Linked DNA regions of Homo sapiens. The protein of the gene in region 3 purifies or fractionates together with the protein of the main gene of each other region. This does not show direct contact. Each region holds a gene or a part of one and is shown on either strand. Other genes may lie near its edges. The genes, in order: VTI1B, SOX13, CLEC12A and COLEC12.

Region 1 (7,077 bases), on a different chromosome or scaffold from region 3:
TACTCGGAAGGCTGAGGCATGAGAATCACTTGAACCCAGGAGGTGGAGGTTGCAGTGAGCTGAGATTGTACCACTGCACTCCAGCCTGGGCGACAGAGCAAGACTCTATCTCAAAAAAACAAAAAAAAGAAAGAAAAAAGAAAAGAAATTCACATATTTCTGATTGTCCTCTTTGCAGGATGGAGAAAAAGGCTGGGTAGACAACAAAGGTGAATGTAACTATCTTAGCTTTATGTTGCTATAACAGAATAGCTGAGTCTGGGTAATTTATAAAGAAAATAAATGTATTTCTCAGAGTTCTGGAGGCTGGGAAGCCCAAGGCTGAGAGGGCTGATTCTTTCAAGGGCCTTCTTGCTACCCATGGGTCACCCCATGGCAGAAGATGGAAGGGCAACAGATCAAGAGAGCAGGCAAGCAAGAGAGGGCTGAACTAACCCACTCTCTCAACAACCAAGCCACTCTCAGGATAACAATCTAATCTCTGAGGATGGAGCCCTCATGGTCTAATCATTTCTTATGGGTCCCACCTCTTAATGCGATTAAAATAGCAAATAAATGTCAACATAAGTTTTAGAGGGGGACATTCAAACCATAGTAATAATGAATTCAATTTTCTATTTTTCAAAGCAATGTTCTTTTGCATTATTTAGACTTATAGAAATGGGCATTGCAAAAATTAATTCAGTGCCAGGTTGAAAATGCAGTCTACATTTTTTTTTTTTTTTGGGAGAGTCTTGCTCTGTGGTCCAGGCTAGAGTGCAGTGGTGCGATCTTGGCTCACTGCAACCTCCAGCTCCAGGGCCCAAGTGATCCTCCCACCTCAGCCTCCCCAGGAGCTGGGACTACAGGCATGCACCACCATGCCTGGCTAATTTTTTTATTTTTTGTAGAGATGAGGTTTCACCATGTTGCCCAGGCTGGTCTCAAAATCGTTCAACACAGCAATACTCCTGCCTCAGCTTCCCCAAGTGCTGGGATTACAGGTGTGAGCCACCATGCCTGGCCTGCAGTCTACTTTTTTTTCTTTTCTTTTCTTTTTTTTTTTTTTTTGATACAGAGTCTTGATCTGTTGCCCAGGCTGGAGTTCAGTGGCATGATCTCGGCTCACTGCAACCTCCGCCTCCTGGGTTCAAGCAATTCTGCCTCAGCCTCCTGAGTAGCTGGGACTACAGGCAACTGACACCATGCCCGGCTAATTTTTGTATTTTTAGTAGAGATGGGGTTTCACCATATTGGCCAGGCTGGTCTTGAACTCCTGACCTCAAGTGATCCGCCCGCCTCGGCTTCCCCAAGTGCTGGAATTACAGGTGTGAGCCACCGTACCCTGCCTGCAGTCTACTTTTCAATCACATAAATCAGATCCCACAATGCTTCTGCACAGTATCTTTTAACTGCATCCCATCATATTTAGAAAAAGGCACAAGTCTTTCACCATGGTCCACAAGGCCCTACATGATCTGGCCCTGCTTATCGCTCTCCTTTGCTCACTCCATCCCAAACACATGGAACTTCCTGCTCTTCGCTGAACACACCAAGCTCATTTCTGCTTAAAGGCATTTGCAGTGCTATTCCCTCCTTCTGACACTCACTTCTCCCTGATTTCTGGTTTACTCCCTCACTTCATTTAAGTCTCTGTTCAAACGCCATCTCCTCAGAGAGGACTTTCACAACCGCCCTATTTAAAACTGAAGTCCCAAAGAAGGCGGATCACTTGAGGTCAGGAGTTAGAGATCAGCCTGGCCAACATGGCAAAACCCTGTCTCTACTAAAAATACAAAAATAATTAGCTAGGGGTGGTGGCGCAACTGTAATCCCTATTACTCCAGAGGCTGAGGCAGGAGAATTGCTTCAATCTGGGAAGTGGAGGTTGCAGTGAGCCGAGATCGTGCCACTGCACTCCAGCCTGGGTGACAGAGTGAGACCCTGTCTCAAAAAAAAAAATGATAAATAATAAAATAAAACTGAAGTCCCATCCCCTATTCTTTTACTCTGATTTACTTTCCTGTATTCTTTAACACTGCCTCTTAATAGTTATATATTGTTTATCACCTACCCACTAGAATGGGGATGTTCGTATCTTTTTCACTGTAATTTGCAATATTCACCAGCACCTAGAACGGTGCCTCACAATTCACCAGCACCTAGCACACAGCAGCCTCACAATAAATATATATTAAATACATGAATTTCATTCTCACCAGTCATTCAATTCCTATGACCTTGAGTAATTCGTTGAGCAAACACCCAAGCTCTGACTCTTAAATAAAAGCAATAAAACAAAGTTTTGTCCTTGCCATCAAATTCTATATATCCGGAGGCCAAGAACTATAGCAGCTTTTCCTATGGATTTAGGGCCGGAAAACTCTAGCTCCTCCAGACAGAACTTGTAGCAACCTGAATCATGAAATTAAGGGGTAGTAAACAGTCTCAGCTGTAAAAACGTTCAAAACAAGACCACATCTAAATGCCACAATCAGGTTTTAAAGGCCAGCTCTCTACCCTCCAATAACTGGTATTTACCAACACCCCCAAATTATGACTCCTTTGGGTTTTTAACCCTTTTTCTGTGCTACGGATCCTCTGTCAGTCTGGTGAAAACTAGACCTGTCTTGAGACTAGTGCTTTTAAATGCATAAAACAAACAAAAACAGCTATGAAAGAAACCCACTCTACATTACAGGACCGCAGATGCAAAAGCCCCTCTGCTCTATTTGCCACAGTGAAAAAAGATGAGAAAATGTGGAAGGCCATAGAAGGATCCCAGGGAACTGAATCCCGAGGTCCAATTTACTCTCAGTGGCAGCAGGGAGACCTGGGGCTGGGACAAGCCAGCCCTAGGGGGCGTGTCTGAGGACGCGGAGGGAGGAGACGCGGGCCCGGGTCTGGGAGGAAGGTGGGAGAATCTTCCTTCCAAAGCGCGCAGGGCTGCGCTCCCCACGGCGTGGCCCACCCCCGCCTCACCGGTCCCCGCCGTCCCCAGCAGCCGCTCGGGCACCCCTTGTAGGTCTTCATGGAGGCCGCGGAAGATCTCGTGCAGCTTCTCGAAATGCTCCGAGGAGGCGGCGGAGGAGGCCATGGCGCAGGCCGCGCTGGAGCAGCGGCCACCGAGATTCGGGGCCCTGGGCCCTTTCCTAGCCCGGCGGTCAGCCGCCCAGCCCAGTGGCCATAACGGCGACCGCCGCACCACCGCCGCCCAGGACGAGGCTCTTCCGGAGCCGCGGCAGGGTCCTCTCGAGCCGGAACGCCCACCTTCTCCAGCCAGTGATTGCTGGAGCGCCGGCGCGAAAGCCTGACGAGAAGTCGGGAGACTGCGCGGCCTAGGCGACTCCTGAGGGAGCGGTGCCGCGCCGGGGCGATCGGCAGTCGCGGAACCCGAGAAGTGCCGGGTCCGGGTTGGGGAAAGGCCGCAGCGAAAGGGGCCTAGGGGACCTGCGGGACTGGCAGCGCGGCCGCCTTCCTCCCGGGCCCCGCCGGCCGGCGAGGGGCGGGCGCTGCAGTGCACGCCGGGGGATGTAGTTTGGCTCGGACGAGAGCGTCTCGTCCCGGGGTCGCGCGTTGCTCCGGGTGCCAGGTTCAGCCCGCGCGGCGACAGCGGGCTTCGGCCCGATTTGATGTATGTTTGCGTCTAGACGTCGTCCTCACTGTCATCGCGCTTTGCTTTGCCACCCTGACCCGAATTCCTCGTTTCGCGTCTTGACTGTTAGCTTTCGGCCCTGGAAAGATAGCCGGGCCAGGGGCTCTGCCTGCCGTCGGGAGGTGGAGCACTTTTCTTGGAAGGCCCAGCGGCTCCCCAAGCTTTCAGAAGTGGAACCCGGCCGGGCGAGTGGCTCGCGCCTGTAATCCCAGTACTTTGGGAGGCCGAGGTGGGAGGATTGCTTGAACCCAGTAGTTCGAGACCAGCCTGGGCACAATAGCGAGAGCTCTACCAGAAACCCAAAATAAGAACCGGGCATGGTGGCGCGCACTTTTGGCCCCAGCTACCCCCGGAGGCTGAGGTCCCACCACTGCACTCCAGCTTTGGGAGACCTTGCTCCCAAGTGGAGCGAGATCTTGTCTCCAAAAAAACAAAAAACCCAAAAACCAAAAATTCAAAAGTGGAACCCAGTTAGGATGACCTCGAAATACTCTAGCTGCTAGGCCCGAGTAATTCTCCTCGTGGAGACTAATTCTCCTCCTAGGCTGCCTCGTGCACTTGTTGACAACAGGTGTTTGTCAAGCGTAGGCATTGCGAGGGATCTGGGCATGTTGGTGAATAAAACATTTAATCTCTGCTCCAGGGGAATTTATAATCTGGTGTGGAAGGTGGGCCTGGCTTCATTAGGTCTCATCTGCCACTAAGTGTCACGTGTTAAAAATTACAAGGTCCCTTCTTGCACTCCATGGGTATAAATTCCTGTCTTCACGTCGGGCATGGTGGCTCACGCGTCATCCCAGCACTTTGGGAGGCCGAGGCGGGCGGATCACTTCAGGTCAAGAGTTCAAGACCAGCCTGGCCAACATGGTGAAACCCCCGTCTCTGCTAAAAACACAAAAATTAGCCAAGCGTGGTGGTGGGCGCCTGTAACCCCAGCTACTCGGGAGGCTGAGGCAGGAGAATCGCCTGAACCCGGGAGGCAGTGGTTGCAGTGAGCTGAGATCGTGCCACCACACTCCAGCCTGGGTGACAGAGAAGACCCTATCTCAAAAAATTAAAATAAATTATTATTTTCACCGATTTCACGGTTTGCTCAAGGTGTCTGTTCTCAAATGTTTGCTTGGGAGTTCAATTTTAAACTGCCTACAAATATTAAAAGATGTATGACTGCTCAGGAGAAAATGCTTTGCTAATTTGTATCTCCTGGGCCCTCATTTTTATTAGATCAAGTTCATTGGCTGTTGATTCAACACACTTTGGTTAAGCTCTTAATATGCACTGAGCATAGACATGACCAAGTCTGAGGATAGTCAGTATACTGTGTAAGTCCCACAGCACAATGCTGGGACTTGTCACAGTACAGAAATAAGGGGCAGGTGCAAAAAAAGGATCAATAGCCTGGGGCCGGGTGCTGCGGCTCACACCTGTACCCCAGCACTTTGGGAGGCCAAGGTGGGAGGATCGCTTGAGCCCAGAGTTTGAGGCCAGCCTGGGCAACAAAGCAAGACGCTGTCTCTAATTAAAAAGAAAGGAAAAAAAAATGGCCCGGGATGATCAAGAAATGTGGAAAAAGTGTCTGTGAAGAGTGTCAAAAAAGGTTAAGTAGGAAATGGTGAATGAACAATTAGATTATCACACAACCTAAATTAATAGCATGTGGATTGAGATTACACTGTAGCTAGACTCTGGAACAAATTATTCTTTAGAATGAGAAATCATTGCACAACCATAATAATGAACAGTGTTTTCTTCTTTTGACTGTAATCAAACTTTTAATTCTTAGTTTTTATTCTGGTAAATGAAAACAAAAAATAATCAAAAAGAATTTTTATTTGTCATTGACAGTTCAATATAAATTAAGTAAAACATTAATTCATTTATTCTGCACTATTATCAGAATTTTTCTAATTTTTCCGTAAAATGACCATTTCTAAACATATAGCTTAATGGTCAAAACAAGTGCAATAAAAGATTAATTTACAAGTATCAGAAGTGAAGACTGTGGTCCTATAACTCTTTCCCCCACCAAAGTTAAAATATAATTGTCATTCCAGGAAATCAAAATCTTTTAGAATAGCACACTCCAAACAAGTGATGGGAACACTACTAATTCCTTAGACTTCCTTTGGCAGCATTACTTTTGATAAGAAGTCTCCAAATAAAATACAAAATTTTGGCACAGACATTTTAATCTTGTCAAGACAATGTAAGGAAATGCCCCAAAATATTATTAAATTGACCATAATTACCAATATCAGTCCCTAAGATAATTTTTCTGAATGAAGAATTGTTTTTTTTGTTTGTTTGTTTTTAGGATTTTTTTTTTTTTTTTTTTTTTTTTTTTTGCCACACTGGTTTTTGTTAAGACCTCATCAGTCCTGGGTGCTTGCCCTCAATTCCTCCATAGCTATGTTAGCATATTTAATATCTTTTGCTATTAATCCTTAACTAGTTAATCCTTAAAGGGCTAGTTAATCCTTAACTAGTCCCTTCATTTTGTGCATTATCTTCCAGTATTCTCCTTCTCTTTTTTTACTTCTTCCCTGCTACCCATGTGCTCTTGGTGGGTAGTTACCAACATATACAGAATCTGCTTCCCTTTGCAGCATTTCATTTGCATAAAGACTGGATGGCACTGGTTTGCTCCATCTCTGATTATTGTGGCTGTTTTGAACTTTGTGAAAATACTCCCTTGGCACACATAAACAGGAAGACACACAAAGATATACACAATTTTTAGTAGAGGTGGGGTTTCACCATGTTGGCCAGGCTGGTCTTGAACTACTGACCTCCGGTGATCCACCATGCCTGGGCAAGCCCTGCTCCTGAGCCAGTCTTTGTTATTCATGTTAAGCTGAGGTTGCAGTGTGGCCCTCTTGAAGTGAAGACTGGTTGGTTGGGAGGAACTGAATTGTGAACAAAGAAGCTAGTTCAAATTTGCATAAATCATCCCTGCTATAGCTTAGATTCTCCTAGGTAGTAGTTTCTTTCAGAAGGAAAATGAGCTGTGCAGGTCATATGAGGGTCTTCTTATCCTATTATGATATCTCTAGTAACTCTGGCAGTAACAGAAGCAAAGTAAATCTGGACATGACAGACATTTAGACGAATCTGGCAGTACACTGAGTTTTAACTGGACACCAAGCAGGCAAGGCTGGAAGGTTTTGCTCTCTTTGTGCTAAAGGTTTTGAAAACCTTGAAGGAGAATCATTTTGACAAGAAGTACTGTGTAGTCTGCTGCAGTCTTCTCTTGGGTCCAACTGGCACTGCCTGTTAGTCTATTGGGAGGCCCAGCAGGTCACAACTGACGTCCCACAGCCGCCTTGCTATAGTCTCATTACGAGCTTGGGCAGAGACCCATGCCACATGACAGTCACTGGAAGGTAAAGAGAAAGGTATGAAGCACAGTGTTAAGAATGAAGTCTGCCATCTGCCAGGGATAA
Region 2 (7,268 bases), on a different chromosome or scaffold from region 3:
TTTTTGTATTTTTAGTAAAGATGGGGTTTCACCATGTTGGCCAGGCTGGCCTCGAATTCCTGACCTCAAGTGATCCACCCACTTCGGCCTCCCAAAGTGCTGGGATTACATGCGTGAGCCACCACACCTGGCAATATTCCAGATATTAATACTCTGACACAGTAAATGTACTAGAGTTGGAGAGACTAGACCTGGATTGCTACATCATTTTACATCTGGAAAGGGCTTTATGGTTTTTCATTCTCCCAGTGAAGTTCAGAGAAATTCAGCAAGATTCAGAAAAAGAGGATGATTCTTCTACCAGACAGATCCAAAACTGAGGCCCAGAAAGTCCACATAGCAAATTAATGGATGAGAGTGGCTCCAGGGCGCTTTCCCTGACCTCAGGACAGGCTGGCCGCAGTGGTGGAACCTCCCTTCTCACACTCACCTGGTTTGCAGGGAATGGGCTGAATGGGTAAGGCCAGCTGGGAGTCAGGGGTGACAGGCAGAGGTTGGTGGCTTGGGGGGAAGGCTGGGATCATGACATAAGGCATGTTAACCTGCTGAAGGCAAAGAAACCCTGTGTGAGTCCCCAGGGACCCAAAGAGCTACCCAGCTATGGTCAGCCCATGGCACAGAGAATGGACCCATGGACAAGAGGCACAGGGGATAAAGCAGGGACAGTTTTCCAAAGGATCCCTTTGACCCTAGGCCAACTCTGTGGGCCCCTGTCTACCTGCCCTCAGGTCTCAGCTGGGGAGGAAGACATGCCGGGCTCCTCCCTTTAATCAGGGAAGGAAGACAGGTTGGGGGCTAGAATAGAAATAACCCTCCTCAGGTCAGGCCTGAGTGATTCTGCTCTGGCTCTTTAACTTGGTGCACATCCCCTGTCCCCAGCACCCTCCAGGCCGGTGTCAACTCCCTCAACTGCCTCCTGTGCCTCTCCGGGTCTCCCCTCCGGTTACCTGGATCTGCTGCTGAAGGAGGTTGATCTTATGCTGCTGCTGAATCAGCTGCTGCTGCTGCTTTGCAATCTGGGAGAGGGAAAGAGTAGGCAGAGGGGGTCACGGACATTAGCCCTGGTGCCCAGTCTGCCCAGCCCTAACCACACCCTGCTTTCTACAGTGGGGCAAGCCATGGAGTGGGGTGGCAGTAGGGAGCAAAGCAGTCAGCCCTCAGAATTGGTTCTCCTTTTGCAGGAAGCTCATCCCTCCCTCCAGGACCAGGAGGCTGGGCAGGAAGCTGCAAGCTGCTCTTCCTGCAGAGTCCCTTTCATACCCTCCCACCCCTAACCCTGTACAAGGGCTCATGAATCAGTCCAGGTGGGAATCCTACAGCCCCTGGCCACAGACCCTGCCCAGCCTGCCCCCAGGCCCCAGCTTGCACTGGTGAGGCCTGTCCCTAAGGCAGCCTTCTCTAGGTCCTGACACACTCCTTTTCCTGGAAAGAAAGCTACACCCACCGAACAGGACCTACCTGCTCCTGCTGCTGCCGGGCAAGCTCCATCTGCTGCTGCTGCTTCTCAAACAGCATGGCAGCCATGTTCTTCTGCTCCGAGTGGGCTGTCAGGAGCTGGTCCCGCAGGGTGGACAGCTGGTGAATCATGACCAGAAGCTGGAGCTCCTTCTCTGCTAGGCTCTCTTGGGTCCCTGCTCCACAGTGAAACAGACCCCATTGAGACTTTTTACTTGTTCATCTATACATCCATCCATCTATCCACCCATCCATCAGAAACTTATTGAGCAATTGCTATGTCCCAGGACCATTAGGGGCTGAGCCACAGAGATGATGACACAAGATGCTTGCCTTGAAGGGGGCTCTTCATGTTGCTACCTGGCAACTACTAGCCTAGAAGTTCTCCCCTATTAGCCATGAATTCCAGGCCCCCTGAAAATGCTGACAGTGGGACATGTCAGCCCCAGAGCCCCAGGCCTCTTCAATGTCCTCGAGTGCTCAGCGCCACACAGGGTCAGGGTGGACAACCATCCCATCGGAGGGATCCAGTGGGACACACTCAGGCTTTGAAGCAAGACAGGTCTGGGGTCAAATTCCCATTTCAACCCATCCTGTCTGTGAGCTGTTAGGCAAGTTACCAATTTCTCTGCACTTTAGGGTTTTCAAAATCTTGGTAAGTGGGCATAATAATAATCACCTCAGAGGGTTACTATGAGGGATAAATGAGCTAATAGAGGCCAGGTGTGGTGGCTCACGCCTGTAATCCCAGCACTTTGGGAGGCCGAGACAGGTGGATCACTTGAGGTCAGGAGTTCGAGACCAGCCTGAACAACATGGTAAAACCCCATCTCTACAAAAATGCAAAAATTAGCCGGGTATGGTGGCGCATACCTGTAATCCCAACTACTTGGGAGACTGAGACAGGAGAATCGCTTGAACCCAGGAGGTGAACTTTGCAGTGAGCCGAAATCACACCACTACGCTCCAGCCTGGGCAACAGAGCGAGCTGTCTCTCTCCAAAAAAAAAAAAAAAAAAAAAAAAAGAAGAAGAAGCGCTAATATATGCAAAGCTCTTAGTCCAGGATCTGGCACATGGTCCTCAACCAATAAATGTTAGTGTCCCCCTGACCTCCAGTTTAGCTCCTGTCTGATGCAGCAGTTTATTCCTGAGTGCCTGGCCATAGACCTTTTTTTTTTTTTTTTTTTTTAAAAAAAAAAAAAAAAACAACATCGGAATCACTCATGGATCCTTTGAGAAGTATAGAGGCCCAGGCCCCTACCATACCCTGGGGTTCCCATTCAATAGGTGGGGGTGGAGCCTGGGCATCTGTACGGTTTTAAAGTTCCCTCTGTGGGTGTGATCAATGACAATGCAAAAATGATCATTCTGGCTGGGTGCAGTGGGTGGCTCATGCCTGCAATCCTAGCAATTTGAGATGCCAAGGTGGGAGGACTGTTTAGGCCCAGGGGTTCGAGACCAGCCTGGGCAACATAGTAAGACGTCATCTCTACAAAAAAAATATAAAAATTAGCCTGGCTTGGTGGCAGGTGCCTGTGTTCCCAGCTACTCAGGAGGCTGAGATAGGAGGATCATGCAGGAGGTTGAGGCTGCAGTGAGCCAAGATTGTGCCACTGCACTCCAGCCTGGGCGACACAGGGAGACTGTATCTTAAAAAAAAAAAAAAATCACTCTAAGGAACCCAAGCAGCAGCCCATTAGTAACTACTTTTCACTCACTTAGTGAGGTCCAACTGACCTAGAATTAATTAGAGTGAAAGGGAACTTTCTGCTCATTTTGCGGTTAGACTCGGGAAGTGGCAATGACATGCCTGAAGTCACAAGGGTGCCTGGTGAGAGCCCAGATTCAGAGTCATGGGATTTGATTCCTACCAGGCCTCTCCTGCATGGGATGAGTGAGACCTAATGCTTGGGGCCTCCAGGCGAGGGATGGTGATGACCCCTAAGGCCAGGCAGGAGCCAGATGGCACAGGATAGGTATGTACCAAGAACTGCCCTACAGAGCCAGGCTGCGTGGCCAGACCAGGAGAAGAGAGATGGGGTTCAAACATCTCCCCCACCCCCAACAGGCCTTCACCTTTGACATCTTTGGCTTCCATAGAGTTCCTTCCTAGAAACCTCTCCTTCCAGTCACTGGACAACAGCTTCTCTATGGCTGGCACCACTGGAAGACAGCAAAGGGGTGAGGAATAACCGTCTTAACACCTCCCTGCCTCAGGCCTCTGCTTCTAACTAGGGCAGACATCCTACCTTCTTTCAAATTTCGGTTGAAGTCCAGCTTCTCCTGGCTTCCAGAGGCAGCCTCCGACACTCCTGGTCTCTTGGGTTCTGGGGACCCATTACCCTCTGGAGAGCTACAGTCCTGCAAGACATACTGAATTGTCACCATAACCCCCAAGAGAAGGGGACAGGCTGCAGGGAGGGCTGGGCACCCCAAAGATGTGTACCCTGAGGGATCCCAGCCCTATCCAAGTCCTACTTCTCCACTCACTAGGTCCCTTTGGCCTCCACCTGCCCAAGCTTTGTTTAGGAAAAGAACAGAAGATTTCAAAACAAAAGACCTGGGTTTCAGTCCAGGCTCAGTGACTCACACGATGCTTGATCCCACACAAGTCCCTGAAATGCTCTGAACCTGACTTCCCTCTTTTGAAAATGGAAATATTAATACCTCCTCTGTCACAGGATTGTTGCTGGGATCAAGGGAGTTAATGCATGTGAATGAGATTTGCCATTACAATCAGGGGCCAAAAGTCAGCTATTAGTTATCACTCCCTTGAACATACCCACTACACCAGCTGGGCTGCATAGGGGAGCAGGTAGGGGCTGGCAAAAGTTACTCACACTCCCCACTGCCTGCCTCACTCCTCTTCTCGTCAAAGTCCTCCCCATCCTTTAAGGCCTAGCTTGAGGCTCTACTTCTCCAGGAAGCCTTCCTTGATCACCAGTGCCCCCACCCCCCACCTCCTTCCTCCAGGCTGGATTCTTTCTTAGAGCCCATAACTCTCCTCATTTTCACTTATTTGGATTTTAATTATATATCACCTTTTTACATCTCATATGTGAAATCAGAATTTTTAGGAGCTGCAAGAATCCTTATGAATCATGCAGCTCAATTCTCTTGTTTTTTTAAGGGTCAAGAACCGTATCATCTTTAACAGTGACCTAATTCTTGCTTGTGTAATCAGGTTGATTTTCCCAAATCATCTGAAAAATCTGGTAGATTACTTTAAAGCCAAACTTTAGCATGTGTGTCCCATCTCCCCATCTAGTCCTCAGAAGCAAGGACTGGGTCACACATAGGTGAACTGTCACTATCAAGCGAGTAAGTACAGGCATGAGTCTAGGTCCTGCTCTGATAGGTGACCCCGCTTCCAGCCTCAGACTGAACTTGGCAGTGCCTCCCTGCTTCCCTACATGGCGTCTTACCCCTAGGATCACCACTTCTGCCTGTATCTGCTGCCATCTAGGGGAGTGGGCCTGCCCAGCCGAGCAGAGAGCCCAGGTACAGCGCATGGGTGTGAGGATGGAGGCAGGGCGGGGACACTGACCCAGGAGCCCCTGAAATTCCCCTGGGCTGGAGCTTGGGGGTCAGCACTATCCTGGGAGGCCCGGGCTGGGTCTCCAGGCTGAGGTTCAGCGGCAGTGGCTGAGCCCTGGGGGGCCTCGTGGCAAGGCTCTTTCTTCTCCTCTGACTTGATGGTGCAGTTCACCATGGTGCCAACGCCATCCAGGGCCAGCTGGGCAGAGATGGGGCTCCTCATGGACATCCTGGGGGAGGGACAGAGTGAGCTGAGGTGAGTCCCCAGTCGTAAACTTCTGCCCAGAGGCAGTGACCCTACTGTTTGCTCCCCTGACCCCACCCAAGTGCCTCCTGGTGCCTGTCACATGGGCACACTCACAGAAAGGGCAAGCTTACTTGTGAACCCACAGAAAAATCAGCAAAGCCTCTTGTATCCCTCATGCTTTTTTGTTTTGTTTTTTGCTTTTTAAACAAAAAGTTCTAGAGAAGAGTGGGCCTACCCTTGCGCAGCAGCTGCCTGTGTAATGCTTGGGACTACGGGACTAGTGGACTGACGGCCCAACTAACGAGGCCAGATACTGACTGGCTGTTTCTGAGCCCAACAGAGTTGGAGAGCGACAGCGAGAGAGAGAAAGTGTGTGTGTGTGTGTGTGTGTGTGTGCACGCATGTGTGCATGTGTCTGTGCATGTTTGTATGTATACAAATGCATTTTTTTTTTTTTGAGACAGAGTCTCACTCTGTCACCTAGGCTGGAGTGCAAGGGCACGATCTCGGCTCACTGCAACCTCCGCCTCCCAGGTTCAAGTGATTCTCCTGCCTCAGCCTCCCGAGTAGCTGGAATTACAGGCACACGCCACCACCCCCAACTAATATTTGTATTTTTAGTAGATATGGGGTTTTGCCATGTTGGCCAAGCTGGTCTCCAACTTCTGACCTCAGGTGATCTGCCCGCCTCAGCCTCCCAAAGTGCTGGAATTACAGGCGTAAGCCACCACGCCCAGCCTACAAATGCATTTTTATAATTAGTTACCAATACTTAAAAATCAAGAGATAACACATAAAAATCTAGATTTGAACTTCTAGCTCAATTGTTTTTGTGGTAAAAATTGGCTGGAATTGAGTAATGGGTATTTCTTATGGACAGGCCAGTCTACTTTAGCCTCTACACTCCTACTACTCCTCAAAAAGGAAACCAAGTATTAACTATATAAGACATATATTCTTCTATATATAAGACATATAGTCTTCTTCTTACAGTGGAGATAAGGTAAAAGTAAATGATTTCTTGCTTCATGCATCTATCACACGGGGGGAAATAGCCGGGTATGGTGGTTCATGCCTGTAATCCCAGTTACTCAAGAGGCTGAGGAAGGCACATCACTTGAGGTCAGGTGTTTGAGGCCAGTCTGGACAACCTAATGAGACTCCCATCTCTTTAAAAAAATAAAGGGCGGGGGTGGGGGGAATAACAGACTGAGATGATTGGCTTTACGAAAAATATTTTCCGGTATCTAGCTAGAATCTCTCAGAGTCTGGCCACCATAGGCATCTGAGTTTGCAGTTCCTAGTTTAAGCAGCTGGTATACCTGGCAGACCCTCTTGAGACTCTGCACCTGCTGTTCCTTTCCTGTCACATCACTGCCTGGGACATCTGAGGAGCTGAGCAATCGCAGCATCTCAGGGAGTGGTTTCCAGGGGTCATGCCAGGCTTGGGCGGAGCAGCAGATGCCTATCCTCCAAAGTCACAGAGATGCGCTCTGGGTTCTAGTGGGAACACAGCAGGTTCCAGCTATGCATGGGTCCTGCCTCAGCTACTGACTAGCCAAGTGACCTAGGGCAAGTTGCTTAGCTGCTCTGTACTTCAAGTTTCCTCATCTGTAAAATGAGCATGGTAAGAGTCTCTACACTATAGGATGGCCGTGAGGACTAGGAGTTGATATTTATATGGTACTTAGAATAGTTTGTGGCACCAGTAAGCACCGATCTGGTGTTTTGTTGTTTCCTTGTTTATCACATTTCCAAATAACATCACATGATCTGGTGTTTGTTAAACCACTACTAGTTGGAATGCAGTATAAGGACCAGCAGCTTCAGCATGCCTTGGGGGCTTGTTTGAGAGGCAAAGTCATAAGTCCCTCCCACAAATCAGAATCTCTGGGAGTTAGGCCAGGGATCAGGTTTAACAAGACCTCCAGGTGATTTTGATATGCACTAGTTAGAAAAGCACTGTTAAATACATTTTTTGATTTTTTTTTTTTTGCATGGGGATTAGATGTTTAGGGGAAGTATGTA
Region 3 (7,342 bases):
GGAAGAATTGGGACCTAGCTCGGCCTGGTGAGGAGGCGAGAGGTCACATGGGTTTGTAGAAAAGGAAGATTAGAAAGACTCAGCGATGCTTGGGGTTGGGACTGAGGGGACAGGCGGGAGGGAAAGAAGGAAGATTTGGGATGAGTTGCATTGGGAACAGAGACTAGGGAGGGACCAATGTGTAAAAGAATGCCTGGACGTCAGGCACCTCAGACCGTTTGCCTATTTTACAACAAGAATTATTTAGATCTTGTAGGATGGAAAAATGGAAAGTGACATTTTCTGGCTATGTGGAACTACTGTCGAGTTTGTATTGGGGTCAAGTGGCATTGCAGAAGAAAATAAGGCATTTAGGTTTTAGGTCAGCTGTGAATTGAAGAGGTTTTAGGTTTTTAAGAGCACAGGCTAAGGGAGAAGAAGGGGGAATGGAGGGCGGAAGCTTGCCCATAGTGAAGGAGGCAAGCCCAGAGAGAAGAGAGAGTAGAGACATGGAGAGAAGGGGTTGGGGGTTCTTGCCCCCAAGAAGAGCGGTACTTGCCGCTAAGGGTGAAGGAGAAGGGGTTGGGGGGTTCTTGCCCCCCAGAAAAGCGGAGAAGGGGTAGAGACATGGAGAAAAGCGGTGGGGTTCTTGCCCCCCAGAAAAGCAGAGAAGGAGTAGAGACACGGAGAGAAGGGGTTGGGGGTTCTTGCTCCCAAGAAAAGCAGTACTTGTCGCTAAGGGTGAAGGACCAAGGCAGGTGTCCCCACATGGTCAGACACCTCTGAAACATGGGTGAATAATCAGGCAGGCATCCCTGCCTGATTCCAAAGGGAAGACTGTCTTCCCAATTCCGTGACTGGTGCCGGAGTTTTGGGTCTATGAATAAAACGCGTCTCCTTCATCTCTGTCAGAAAAGGAAAGGAACTGAAATTAAGAGAGAGATTGAAGGGTGATGCCAAGATTGAAAGGAGAAAGAGGTTGAGGGATAGTGAGAGAGGTTGGAGAAGAGAGTAAAAAGAGGCCACTTACTGGATTTAAAATTGGTGAGATGTTCCTTGGGCTAGTTGGTCTGAGGACCAGAGGTCATAGGTGGATCTTTCTCATGGAATAAAGAGCAGGAGGACAGGGGATTGATCTCCCAAGGGAGGTCCCCTGATCCGAGTCACAGCACCAAATTTCACTCGCATCCGTGTGAAGAGACCACAAAACAGGCTTTGTGTGAGCAACAAGGCTGTTTATTTCACCTGGGTGCAGGTGGGCTGAGTCTGCAAAGAGAGTCAGCGAAGGGAGATGGGGTGGGGCTGTTTTATAAGATTTGGGTAGGTAAAGGAAAATTACATCAAAGGGGGGTTGTTCTCTGGCGGGCAGGAGTGGGGGTAACAAGGTGCTCAATAGGGGAGCTTTTGAGCCAAGATGAGCCAGGAGAAGGAATTTCAGAAGATAATGTCATCAGTTAAGGCAGGAACAGGCCATTTTCACTTCTTTTGTGGTGGAATGTCATCAGTTAACGCAGGAACCGGCCATCTGGATGTGTACATGCAGGTCATAGGCATATACACAGGCATATGATGGCTTAGCTTGGGCTCAGAGGCCTGACAATAACAACCCACAAAAAATATATAATTTAGGTAATGGATAATGTATCACTTATGTTTAATATTGGAAGACATCTGTAATTATATTTGCAGATTGTCTCTTAGTATTCAACTAGAATGAAAATTGATATAGGTTGATTTCATATCTTGTCTATTGCAAATAGTGCTGCAATAAACATGGGAGTGCAGGTATCTATAGTATATATACACAATGGAATATTATTTGGCCATAGAAGGAAATGAAATCCTGTCATTTGCAGAAACAGGAGTGGAACTGAAGGTCATTATGTTAACTGAAATAAGCCAGGCACAGAAAGACAAATATCACATGTTTCCACTCATATGTGAGAGCTAAAAGAATGAATCTCATGGAAGCAGAGAGTAGAATTGTGGTTACCAGAGGCTTAGAAAGGGGTGGTGGGGGATAAAGATAAGTTGGTTGGGTACAAAAATAAAATTAGATAGAAGGAACAAATTCTAGTATTTGATAGTACAGTGGGAAAACTATAGTTGACAATAATTTATTGTATATTTCAAAATAGCTAAAAGAGAAGAAATGTACTATTCCCAACAGAAGGAAAAGGTAAGTGTTTGACGGAATGAATATTCTTATTACCCTGATTTGGTCATTACACATTGTATACAGGTTTCAAAATATCACATGTACCTCCAAAATACATACAACTATTTTGTATCAATAACAAAATTTTTAAAAAACTGATATAGGCTGTGAAGGGCAAACCATGTAGTCATCTCAGAGCTCAGCTTATTCTTGTGGATATAAATGTTTTAGCTGGCTCTAAACCAAGGATTTTGTATGAAGTAATACTTATTCAAATATTTTCAACAAAATAGAGTACCTTGCAAACAGGACTTTGAGATTTTTCATTTGTTTCCCTTTACAGTTCGTCATATACGCTTCATCTTCTAGTGTTGATTGATGAAACAACGTTCCACATGAGACAGCAGAGCAATAGAACACAGAACAGGACTCTGCCTGTGTGGTGGCCGGTTTCCATCCTTTCACAAACAAAGAGATATTTATAAACAAATATTTATATGCAAATATTTGATCCACCTAGGAAAAATAGAGGGCTACTCTTTCCCACCAGGAGAGGCCTTATAGCCTGTGCACATATTTGAACAAGGCAACCAGAGACTTTGATGGTCTCAACTCTACCACTCACCAACTGTGTGATGTTGGATACAAACTTAACCACTTTGCAACTCACTTCCGCATCTGTAAAATAAGGGTGATAATAATAGCACCTGGTTTAGAGAGTTGTAAAGATAAAAGCAACATTAGTAAAGTACTTAGGATGAAGTAATCATGTTTTGAATATATTTTCCTTTAAATGTGGCTGCCAATATTTTCATGGTAATATTTTCAAATGTATTCAATAGCTTTTTCTTTATCAGGAGAAAATCAGTTGTTTTAATTAAATTGACATTGAATTTTTGATACATTTAGGAGAATTTAGTTTCTTTTTATACAGTATTGACGCTTCTAATCCCACAGCATGTTTTTCTATTTTTTTCTTTTCTTCAATAGTTTTAAAATTTTTTTGTTCATTTTGGTTATGCAAATATCTAGTTAATTTCTATCTGTAATATTTTCCTATTTATTTTTAGTAGCTCTTATAAAGGGAGCATTTTGTTTTTCCTGTCTATCCTGACATAATAAAGCAATTAGTTTTTAATTGATTTTTAAAAATATTTATGCATTCTCTTTCATATGTATAATAATAATACCTAACCATTTTATGATTTACATGTGGCAATGTCAAGAAGAATTTTAAAGTAAGATTTACTAACGAATATTAGAGAACATGCTCAAAAACAGTCCTCTCCACCCCCTCACTTCCACTTGCATTCTTGATCAAGAAGTGAAATAAAAAATACTAAGACTATTGAGTCAAACTAATAAGACACAAATCTGGACTTTGGAGACTCATTTCCCTCCCACTTTTGATAGCTTAGCTGAGGAGGAGATCAAATGGTTGAGTCAGTCTGTAGAGAGATAGCAAGGCTGATTATAGTTTTCCTGGCCTGCAAAGCTGTTTCCAGAGCCCTCAGTATACAGACCTTGGCCATCAGTATGCATACTCTCTGGTGTGGTTTCTGGGCATCAGATCCCTTAATATATAGGTTGGCGCTAAAGTAATTTTGTAAACTTTTAATGGCAAAAACCACAATTACTTTTGCTTTTAATGGCAAAAACCAGAATTACTTTAGCACCAACCTATATATTGTTATTTAGAGAAACTAGGCATTCCCTACCTCTCTTAGGCAAACCTATAGCTATGTAACATGGCAACGGAATGACACTAACTGTCTCATTCTCCTTGGGAGTGCTCTCTGTATGTTCAGTCTCCCAGTGAAGAGAACCCTTCTATCAGGACCTTCATCATCATACAAAAGGAATATCTATGCCAGGCCACAGCTGCAGATTAGTGAGTGTCTGAGAACTGCATCTTTTCTGTTATTTTTCTGCTTGAAAGTTTTTCACCAATAAATCCTACACTATGTCTGCACCATGTGGTGCTAGTTATTTGTGTTCTCTTGCATGACACTGATGATGTTATCCAAACACAATTTCAAAAACTACTTTCTGTAGTTGGTAAATATATAGAAATTGAGAAAAAGGAAGAAATATGAGGAAGAAAGATGTTATCTGTTGCAACAGTTCAATGTTCTTAACTGAAGCCACAGATGAGATTTGGCTCATTTGCAGACATATGGGTGATTGGTACAGTAGGTTTATAAACAGAAGTTTAAACTTGTAAGCTTAAGCTTCCGTTTATAAACAGAAGTTTAAAATTATAGGTCCTGTTTAACATTCAGCTCTGTTAACTCACTCATCTTTTTGTGTTTTTACACTTTGTCAAGATTTCTTTACATATTCATCAATGTCTGAAGAAGTTACTTATGCAGATCTTCAATTCCAGAACTCCAGTGAGATGGAAAAAATCCCAGAAATTGGCAAATTTGGGGAAAAAGGTAAGATTTTGAGTTATGGATGTGTTGTAAGTTTGTATAATAGAAGTGGTTATAGACTTGCATCTTCAATATTAGTGATATAGTTACTATTCAACTTAAATTTTCAATTAAGTCTCTTATGTTTAAGCAAAGGAACAAAAAGTGTATGAACAAAATGATTAGAAAAAAGGGTTTTGTAAAAACACTTATCTCTGCATTGAATAATCAATCTTTTACATTTTTGAAATTTTTTATTATCACACTCAATATAATTGGGACAGAATTTTTCAAATGATTGGGTTGTATGAAGATTTTATTTCTTTATGAGATGAAGCCATGGAAAAAGAAACATGTTCAGGAAAGTCATGATTTCATATGTGTGTGTGTGTGTGTGTTTTTTTTTTTATAAGAAAATGCTTTGTGTCAGACAGAGAGACCTTTATAGGATTTCATTTGACTATCTACCAAACTAAGCATAAATCACCCTAAAATTTCTCCTACTTCTTTTGGAGATTTTTTACTAACTTACTAAAAAATAAAACATGTTAAGTTAAATGAAATGAATCATTAAGGAATAAAGGAAGAAAAGAGGTAAAGAAATATCAGAAGACATAATATATTCATAATATTCAAAACCACATTATATCAAGTAACTTTGTATTTTTCAATTCAAATTAAAATCATGAAATAAGTGGTCCATCTGTGTTGACTTTCACTTAAACAAAACTACTCTTCATCTTACTCAGAATCCTATAGTTTTCCTATTATGTATGGTTCTTGCCTTCTGGCTCCTAGCCTTTTGGGAGTGAAATCTGCCCTAGCGAATCCATAGTTTAAATCAGTGTATTTGAGTTAAAAATAACTTAAACAGTGATAGTGGAGAACACAAAGAAGGGTGATAGAAACAGAAAAATAAGGAGAGAAGAGTGCCAAAATTCTCACATATTATTTAAGTTGTTGTCCTCTCTCCTCTCCCCACACAGAATATAACATCTTTAATATTCTAGCATTGCTATAAACAGAAATTTCACTGTTACATCTTGGATCCATTTATGATGAGCATTGTAAATCTTGAGAAAGGATAGCAGATTAATTCTGTTGGCTTCTTTTTTAATACTGAAATTTTTTTTTAGAAAGAAGAAGGGTTTAAGAATTTTACAATATTTTCTGTCTTTATTTCCTTGTTTATATTTCTTCTTTTATACACTGAAAGAGAATGGGCATATCATGAGCCTAATATTACCAACAATTGCCCTTTACTTGTCCTCTCACACCCTTTCCCACCTCTTTTCCTGCCAATCCACCTTAAGTTCCCACCACAAGAATTCCCTGAATTCACGGAAATATTGAATCCATGTCTTCTTCATGTTCTTAATCTCATCTAATTTTCTCATTATCGAGCTTAGAATCTACATTATGTAATATAACATTGTATTATGTAATGTCTACTCTTAGTCTCTTACACTTCTCCTCTTCAATGTGTGTTAATTTTTCCTTAAAAACTCCAGCTCTGGCTAGGTGCAGTGGCTCATACCCATAGTCCTAGCACTTTGAGAGGCCAAGATGGGAGGATTATTTGAGGCCAGAAGTTTGAGACCAGCCTGGGGAAAGTAGAGATATGCCATGTCTATAAAAAAAAAATTTTTTTAATTAACTGGGCACCCATAGTCTCAGCTGCTTGGGAGGCTGAGGAAAGAGGATTACTTGAGTCCAGGAGTTGGAGGCTCTAGTAAGCTAAGATCAGGCGAGTGTACTCCAGTCTGGGTGACACAGCAAGATCCTGCCTCAAACAAATCAAAACAAAACAAGACAAAAACCCCAAAAACAAACAAATAAAAACAACTCCAGTTCTGGTTAAACCCGAATATCCACCCAGTCTGCCCCAGAGTTGAATATTGCTGGTGAAAAATACACAAATTTTCAACCCCAGTTACTCTCACCTTTCCTCTGGTAAGAAAAAAGCATCCATCTACACTTTTTTTTGTTGTTATTTAAATGTCTATCCTACCATGTCCTTACTGATACTCTGCTTTCCTTCCAGATAGTATTTACGATAAGTATGTACTTATGAAGGGACGGCTCCTCATTTTGCTCTGAATTTCAGTCCATGTGTCGTTTTCAAAGACAGACTTCCGTAATTTTTTCCTTTCTCTCCTGTGTCATTATTCTCTCTTCCTTCTCTGCTTTTCCTTTTTGGTGCACCAACATACTCTACTACTCACCAATATACTCTGCTACTCCTTTTATAACAAAACACAATCCTTGCTTGACCACTTAAGCCTTTCCATTATTATTTAACTTCTTTGTTTCCTTTCACAACTCAACTTTTGAAAGCATTTTCTTTGGCCACTGACTCTCAGTTCTTCACCTCTCATTCTGTTCTCAACCAACTCTATTAGGCTTCTGCCCCCTTGGTGCCATAGAGACTGAGCTTTAGGTCACTGATGTCCTGCCTGTTTCATCCCAATAGTCACATGTCTCTTCCATTACTTCACTTCCCTGCAGCATTGAAAAAGTTGAACAGTCCTCTAAATGCTTTCTTTGCACATCCCTCCTGACACATCCTCATGGCTTCTCCTGTCACCATGCCTGCCTCTCCTCATTCTTTGTTGATTCCTCCTCCTAGATGAAACTCTACAAGATGGAATACTCTGAAGCCCTGTCCTGGGTCCCGTTTTATTGCATCACTCAGTACACTCTTCTAATCTACCTCATTCAGTTGTTTGACTTTAAATAGAGTGACTCCCCAATATCTCTGTATGACCTTTCCCTGAATCTCAAGACTAGA
Region 4 (7,268 bases), on a different chromosome or scaffold from region 3:
AGTGCCAGATTATGCCAGGGGGTACCCCTTCCTCTCCCCAGGACAGGCGCAGAGGAGCCGACGAGTCTCTGACAGGCCTGCAGCAGATATCCACTTGCCCTTAAGGGCAGTCTGAGGCTCACCTTCAGAGCAGACCTAAAATCTTCTAATGTTCCAAATCAATATTTCGCCACATGTTTATTTTTTATAAAGAGCTGGCCTGGCTAGGTGCGGTGGCTCATACCTCTGATCCCAGTGCTTTGCGAGGCCAAGGTGGGAGGATCACTTGAGGCTAGGAGTTTGAGACCAACCAGAGCAACATAGTGGACCACGTCTATCCAAAAACTTTAAAAATTAGCCGGGTGTGGTGATGTGCACCTGTGATTCCAGGGACTTGGGAGTCTGAGGTGGGAGGATCGCTTGAGCTGGGGAGATAAGAGGCTGCAGTGAGCCATGATCGTGCCACTGCCCTTCAGCCTGGGCAACAGAGTGAGACCTTGTCCCTTAAAAACAAACAAATAAAAACAAAAGAGAGATGGCCTTATTCTGGTTTCCTCCTTTATCCTCTGATCCTACTCACATGGAGAATTTGAAAGTACAAAAGAGCCTGTTTATCCAAATGCACATGCACACGCACATAGGGACATTTAAAAAACTCGATCTGGCTTCTCCATCACCTCTGACCCTCCTCCCTGCTGCTCAGCTGATACAGGGCTAGGCCTCCATGCCCATGAGACTCTCTTAGGCCTGAAACACCCTTGTTTTCTCCTCTCCTGGGACAGCCCCAGAGGCCACACCGTGGACTTTGCCTAGTGCTCTCAGAAGGTGCTTCCAATGCGGTGATGCTCCTGTGCCTGGTGGAGCCCTGCAGGGTCTGGCCTCTCCGTCCCCAGCAAACTAAAGGTTACTCAGAGGGTTTTTTTTTTTTTTAATTTTATTTTTTTTATAAATTCTGCTTCATTTGTTACAGTTCCTTGCAATTTTCACACCCGTCAGAGGCAAAGCCAGAGTATGGAGATGTGATAATCAAACTGATGCAATACAGTCATTGTTAGATCTTTGGGTAGAATTAGGGAAGGAGCTAACACCCCCTAGGGTAGGATGAGGCCCTGGAGACTTCTAGGTTATCCAAGAAGGTACCTCAAAGTGATTCTATTCTTTGTTGCTCCTTTCATAGAACTTAGGTCACATGGAACTTATGGGGAATCTTCAAACCTCTAGGGGATGGTTATCCCGCAAATGCAACTTTGTTTATAGTGTATTTTAACTTACTATGAGTAGGAAAATCACACATTTGTAGTTTTTTTTTTTTTTTTTCTTTTTTGAGATAGAGTCTTGCTCTGTGGCCCAGGCTGGAGTGCAGTGGCGCCATCTCGGCTTGCTACAACCTCCGCCTCCTGGGTTTAAGCAATTCTTCTGCCTCAGCCTCCCGAGTAGCTGGCATCACCCGCATGCGCCACCATATCCGGCTAATTTTTGTTTTTTTTGTTTTTTTAGTAGAGACGAGGTTTCACCATGTTGGCCAGGCTGGTCTCGAACTCCAGACTTCAAGTGATCCGCACACCTCAGCCTCCCAAAGTGCCGGGATTACAGGCGTGAGCCACTGTGCCCAGCCAGGAAAATTACTCATTTGTAGTTTCTAATCACACTCTGCCTAGAAGCCCAACTAGGGGTCAGGGGCACCCACAGTGTGATCCTGAAGGGAGCTCCCCAGTCCTTGGAAACACGCCTGGGGCGAACGCTGAACATGCCTGAGGTTGCCTGGGCTTCATCATCTTTTCCCATAGCATTTAAAGAAAATGACTTGGCCAGAAGTATTATGCTGTGTGGTTTTATGAGTTTCATGATTTTTTTCTTAGAAATGAAAAAAAATTCACTCCATGAAAAGAAGAAAGGAAAGCCTTATTTGACAGCGTATCAACTGTCAACCACGATTTCCCCAGGGGAAATATGCAACTGGTACCAGGAGCCCCGGTTTGGGAGGAGCGTCTAGGACACGAGGTCATTAAGGAAGAAACTGTTGGGAGTCGGGCAAGAAGTGACAACAGAACAGTGAGAGCCTGACCACCAATCTGGAAGCTTCTGAGTACTTACTTGTAGTCTGGAGATGTCCCATCCAGCCACTTCCATTCATTTTCACGCTCTGAGTCTGTGAGGCCGATCCAGTGGCTCTCTCTCCCTACCATCTGTTTTTTTATCCATTGCTGAAAAACAAAGCAGGGGTGGTGCGTGACTATTTTTCAGAACAGATGTCTCAGGCCTTTTTCTTTTATTTAACATTTAGAAAAAAGGACAATTTAAAAGAGGATGGTTGTCAGAATGTGTAGCCTGCTTTTGCTTTCTGCTTTTTTCTTGCTACTTGCTTTGTTTTGTGCTGTTTGGGGGGCTTTGACTTTTTTCCTCTTACAAGTTTACAACGGATGTTAAAGTGAGGCTCTTCCTCTAAATCACTCAGACAACCCAGTGAATGTCCATTGGTCCCACTTCCTCCTACCACCCACCCATTTCTCCCATGTCCTAATCATAGGAATAGTCATGATATTCTTGGGCACTTCCTCTGGGCTGGGCCCCACGTGCAGTGTGTTGCACGCAGTGTGTCTCCAAGCTTTTATAACAACCCACTGAACAAACATGAGAAGTAGCTGAGCTGGGCTTGGGCCCTGGTCTGTGTATTCTAAAGCCCAGGTGCTTGGTCACTGTCTGCCGTGTGCTCATTCCAGTCAGTTACTACAGGAAACATCTGTTTACAGGATTGTGTCTGCTGGAGATAACTTAGGGAGAAGGGAGGAGGCCACTGGAATTGGTGTGGTATCAAAGAAAGCGCTGCATTGTTGCTAGATGGGCTGCAGTTTTGGTCTCAGTCTGCATAAACCTTGCCGGGCCTCAGTTTTCCTAGCCGTCAAATGAGGGTAATAATAATACCTATGTTCTAGGGTTGCTGTGAGGTTCAAGGGAGCAAATGCCTCTCACGGTGCCTGGCATATAGAGGGTCTAATGAGTGGACACTAGCATTAGCATGCGTGGGCTCTGCCTCCTCAGCCTTCTTCGCTCTTCCTGACTCCTCTGGAGCCATGCGTGGTCCCTTGCACCCCACTCCATCCCTACAGTGTTCATGCCTCTCTCTGTCCCCACAGGTGCCTGGTGGCAGCCCTCAAGCTTCTCTGCATTATAATTATTTCAACAGCCACCAGAAGGAGCCACACATCTCCAGGCTTGATAGGCAATATCTTCCAGGAAGAATCATGAAGATACAATTCCAATGCCACGAATGCTTCTAGCCACTGGATGAAACCCAAATCTCTGTAATGTTGCCTCCCATGTTTACGTGACTAGGAATTCGTGATATCTCTGAATCCCCAACAAGCCTGCAATTTCCAGATGTAAACTATCCTTAAATTATAGTTTTCCCCAACCAAGTATGTGGCAGGCATACCTGTTCCTCTCTAGTGTTTATGAAAACAAGATGTGAAGACTTGTCTTCACAGAAAAGCTTTGCATCCTCAAAAATTTCTTTCTCAACTGAAAAATAGTAGCATTTGTCTGTGAAGTTCTTCCAGTGAGGCGGGCAGCCTAGGAATGCAAAAGTGGAAAACATTGATTAAAAGATCACAGAAAGCACTCTGCCTTTCTTCAGCTGTGTTTCAGAGGCCAAAACTGTGGTCCCGCTGGGAGCAGCCTGAGCGTCCCTGCACGAGGCCCACAGCTGACGTTCACGGACGTGCTCGCAGCAAGCATGACCCAAAGTGGACTGCAGAGCACAAGCCAAAACCACATAATCTGGAAAAGATCTTTGACTGGGTCTTTGTTCTTCTGTGTCTGGATCCGTCTTCACAATGACAGAAATAACAGAAGCAACAACAAGAAGCAGGGCAGGCACAGATGTTCAGCGTCAGTCTGGAATCATACGGAACCCAGGAACACTTGGATGTGAGAACCCAGCACCAAAACTGGGCTCACGGATCAACAAAAATAACCCGGGCCTCACCGACCAAAATCAAGTAGAATAGCGGTTGGGTCAAAGGAGAGAAAAATAGGCTTGGTTGCTAACCAAACATTCGAGTTTTGCCAAAGGTTTAATTATCAAAAGACTAGAAGGCACCGTAACATCTAACACCTTTCTCAAAAAGAAATTAAATGTAGTCATCAATAGCAGAGGGTTCCATCCACATGTTGATGGAGCTAACCGAGGGAGCCCATCTATCTCCAGAGTGAGGATGTAAAACGAGGGAAGAGCGCTCAGGGCGGCCAGCAGGCTTCCCTGAAGGAAATGTTTTGCATTGTGTTTGTCTTCTGAGGGCTGGCTCCTATAAATAAACAAGTGCAAGAGCCAGGTGCAGTGGCTCCCACCTGGAATCCCAGCACTTTGCAAGACTGAGGCAGGAGGGTTGCTTGAGGCCAGGAGTTCAAGACCAGCCTGGGCAACATAGCAAGACCCTGTCTCTACAAAAAGGAAAATAAAAAATTAGCCAGGTGTGGTGGCATACCCCTGTGGTCCCAGCTACGCAGGAGTCTGAGTGGGAAGATCACCTAAGCCCAGGAGGTCAAAGCTGCAGTGAGCTATGTTTGCACTACTTCACTTCGTCATTCCAGCCTGGGTGACAGAGTGAGACCCTGTCCCATACATACACACATAATACATAAAACAAATGAGCACTAGAGAACCCAATGGCGTTTAGAGAGAAACACATGCCTGGTATGGAGGCCTGTTCTGGCAGCAGGGCTCCTGTGCCAGCCCCTATGATGCCTTTGCTGTTAAATAATATGCAGCGGGGGACAAGACGTGGTGGCTCACACCTGTAATCCCAGCACTTTGGGAGACTAAGGTAGGTGGATCACTTGAGGCCAGGAGTTTGAGACCAGCCTGGCCAACACGGTGAAACCCCCTCTCTACTAAAAATACAAAAATTAGCTGGCTGTGGGGGCACACGCTTGTAGTCCCAGCTACCTGGGAGGCTAAGGCAGGAGAATCACTTGAACCCGGGATGTGGAGGTTGCAGTGAGCCGAGATCACGCCACTGCACTCCAGCCTGGGCAACAGAGTGAGACCCTGTCTCAAAACAAAAACAAAAACAAAAATAACATGGGTGGGGCCACACACTGGGGGTTGGCTCAGTCTCAAGCACATGCACTGCCCTGTCCCCCTGGCTGGAGGGAGGGCTTGGACTTACCATTGTCCTCCGGTGCTGGGGTTGGCTCATTCTGCAGGGCCAGGGGCACCACCGCTCCTGATGGGCCAGGAGGGCCGGGGGGGCCCTTGGGGCCTGGCATGCCTGGTACCCCAGGCAAGCCTGGCAGTCCCCGAGGTCCAGGCACCCCAGGCTCCCCAACGGTGCCCTGAAGTCCCTGGAAGCCAGGAGGGCCCTGAGGGCCGGGGAGTCCCTCTTTGCCTGGTGGGCCCGGGGGGCCTGGGTCCCCACTGGAGCCCTGAGGGCCGGGCTTCCCAGGGGAACCACGGGAGCCTTTGGGGCCCTGGGAGCCTTTAGATCCTTTGCCGCCACGCTCTCCGGGGGGACCAGCTGGTCCAATTGGGCCTCTCTCACCCGCAGGGCCAGGTGGTCCAGGCTCCCCCTTCTCTCCTTTCTGTCCCTTGTTGCCAGTTGGGCCAGGGGGTCCCTGGGATCCTCTGTCACCTCTTGGACCCCTGGGGCCCGGTGGACCTAAAGCATAAAAGAAAAAGGTGTCAACATGAAATCCACTGTGAATGATAGTTATGAATAATTTTTCTTCTTATAAAATCTCCAAATTAAAAAAACCTAGCATACAAAGTATATACAGCAGGGAAAGACCATCTGTTTATCATACTACTGTAGACTGTTATGGGCTAAATTATGTCCTCCTCCAAATTCTTATGCTGAAGTCCTAACCCCCAGCACCTCAGGATGGGACTTATTAAGAGACACGGCCTTTACAGAGGTCATCGAGTTAAAACGAGGTGACATGAGTGACCCTAATCCAATAGGACTGGTGTACTTAAAGAAGAGGGGATTAGGTCACAGACACATAGAGGAAAGATCGCTTGAGGGCACAGGGAGAAGATGGACTCCTGCAAACCAAGGAGGGAGGCCTCGGAGGAAACAACACTGCTGACACCTTGATCTTGGACTTGCGGCCTCCAGAACCGTAAGGAAAGAAATGTCTGTTGTTTAAGCCTCCCAGTCCGTGTACTGTGTACTGTGTATATGGCAGCCCAAGCAAGCCAATATACTGTGTGTTCTTCAGTAAGCTCACCCTTCTTCTTCAAGCTTTTAGAATGTATTGTAACAGTGCACAACGTTTTAGTGCCCCACTGATGTCCTTCATGGTGACACTGACAGCCAGGGGCTTATTCTTCACAGTGACTCACATGATTAAACTGGGTTCTCTTAGTCACCTGGGCCTGTGTTGTCATCAGCAGGAAAGTTGTGTAGACCAGGATCAGGATTTCCTCTTACTTATTTCCTCTTGTCCTTAATTTGGTAAATATTTATTAAAGGCTTATATGACAAGCACCGTGTTAAGGTATTGTGGGATAAAGAACTGAAGGAGATTGATGTATTAATTCTCTCCCCATAACCAAGCCTATAACTTCCCTGTAAGCTTCCTCTCTGTTGTACCCCAGCTGGCATGCCTGTGCTGTCCACCAAAGCTGTGGGGGTGCTGCTGTCCTTAGGGCTGGGCCTCACTCACCCATGGGCCAGCTCAGAGGGACGGGAGGTCTCTGTGGGAAAGCCTGGTGGGACTTTGCTGCCCATTGTGGACAGGTGTCCAAACTCTCTGGGTGGGTTTGTAAGTCTAATAATACACATAAGGAAGGTAGGCTAGAGAAAAAAGGTATGTGGACCATCTAATTGGGAAGAAAAGCGAATACTGCTCATCCCCATTATCCCACAAAGAGGCCCATGTAACACAGGATTGTTTTTCTTTCTTTAATTTCTCAGGGGTAACAGGAAATTTCACACAAATAATCTCCTACCAGGAACTGTATAGTGAATGACAATTTTCAGGGTACTTTCACATACATTATGCCACCTGACCTTGCCTGTGCGGTAGAATTCTCATTGCATAAATGAGGACATGTAGGGCCAGAGATGCCAAACTATTTGTTCGAGGATACTTAGCTACTAGGAACAGATACCAAGGAGAGTAAGACATGGTCAGTCACAATCTAGTAGTGGAGCTGGGGCATGAACTCAGGTCTTCTGATGTTGAAATGAATGAATCTTAGAGTTTCTGAAATCTCACAATTCTGCATGAATAAGTAAAAGGCCACACTTAATCTCTCTCTCTCTTTTTTTAGAGACAGAGTCTCA

What was found.
Region 1: the proteins of CLEC12A (region 3) and VTI1B purify together in Homo sapiens (affinity purification with mass spectrometry; 3 studies listed by BioGRID and IntAct, with this or other methods). This does not show direct contact.
Region 2: the proteins of CLEC12A (region 3) and SOX13 purify together in Homo sapiens (affinity purification with mass spectrometry; 3 studies listed by BioGRID and IntAct, with this or other methods). This does not show direct contact.
Region 4: the proteins of CLEC12A (region 3) and COLEC12 purify together in Homo sapiens (affinity purification with mass spectrometry; 3 studies listed by BioGRID and IntAct, with this or other methods). This does not show direct contact.

Annotation. Positions count from the first base shown.
Region 1 is NC_000014.9:67,671,414-67,678,490, forward strand, and holds the start of VTI1B (vesicle transport through interaction with t-SNAREs homolog 1B), read right to left. Parts: upstream 3,220-7,077; 5' UTR 3,077-3,219; coding exon 2,962-3,076; intron 1-2,961. Other genes in the region: RDH11 (retinol dehydrogenase 11), read right to left, coding at 6,908-7,010. UniProt on the Homo sapiens protein: V-SNARE that mediates vesicle transport pathways through interactions with t-SNAREs on the target membrane. These interactions are proposed to mediate aspects of the specificity of vesicle trafficking and to promote fusion of the lipid bilayers.
Region 2 is NC_000001.11:204,110,870-204,118,137, reverse strand, and holds part of SOX13 (transcription factor SOX-13), read right to left. Parts: intron 5,224-7,268; 5' UTR 5,223-5,223; coding exon 5,004-5,222; intron 3,818-5,003; coding exon 3,706-3,817; intron 3,620-3,705; coding exon 3,533-3,619; intron 1,632-3,532; coding exon 1,459-1,631; intron 1,017-1,458; coding exon 948-1,016; intron 546-947; coding exon 431-545; intron 1-430. UniProt on the Homo sapiens protein: Transcription factor that binds to DNA at the consensus sequence 5'-AACAAT-3'. Binds to the proximal promoter region of the myelin protein MPZ gene, and may thereby be involved in the differentiation of oligodendroglia in the developing spinal tube.
Region 3 is NC_000012.12:9,967,113-9,974,454, forward strand, and holds the start of CLEC12A (C-type lectin domain family 12 member A), read left to right. Parts: upstream 1-4,296; 5' UTR 4,297-4,464; coding exon of another isoform or gene 4,465-4,484; coding exon 4,485-4,575; intron 4,576-7,342. UniProt on the Homo sapiens protein: Myeloid inhibitory C-type lectin receptor that acts as a negative regulator of myeloid cell activation. Myeloid cell inhibition is required to limit proinflammatory pathways and protect against excessive inflammation.
Region 4 is NC_000018.10:329,595-336,862, forward strand, and holds part of COLEC12 (collectin-12), read right to left. Parts: intron 5,637-7,268; coding exon 5,148-5,636; intron 3,550-5,147; coding exon 3,413-3,549; intron 2,184-3,412; coding exon 2,074-2,183; intron 1-2,073. UniProt on the Homo sapiens protein: Scavenger receptor that displays several functions associated with host defense. Promotes binding and phagocytosis of Gram-positive, Gram-negative bacteria and yeast.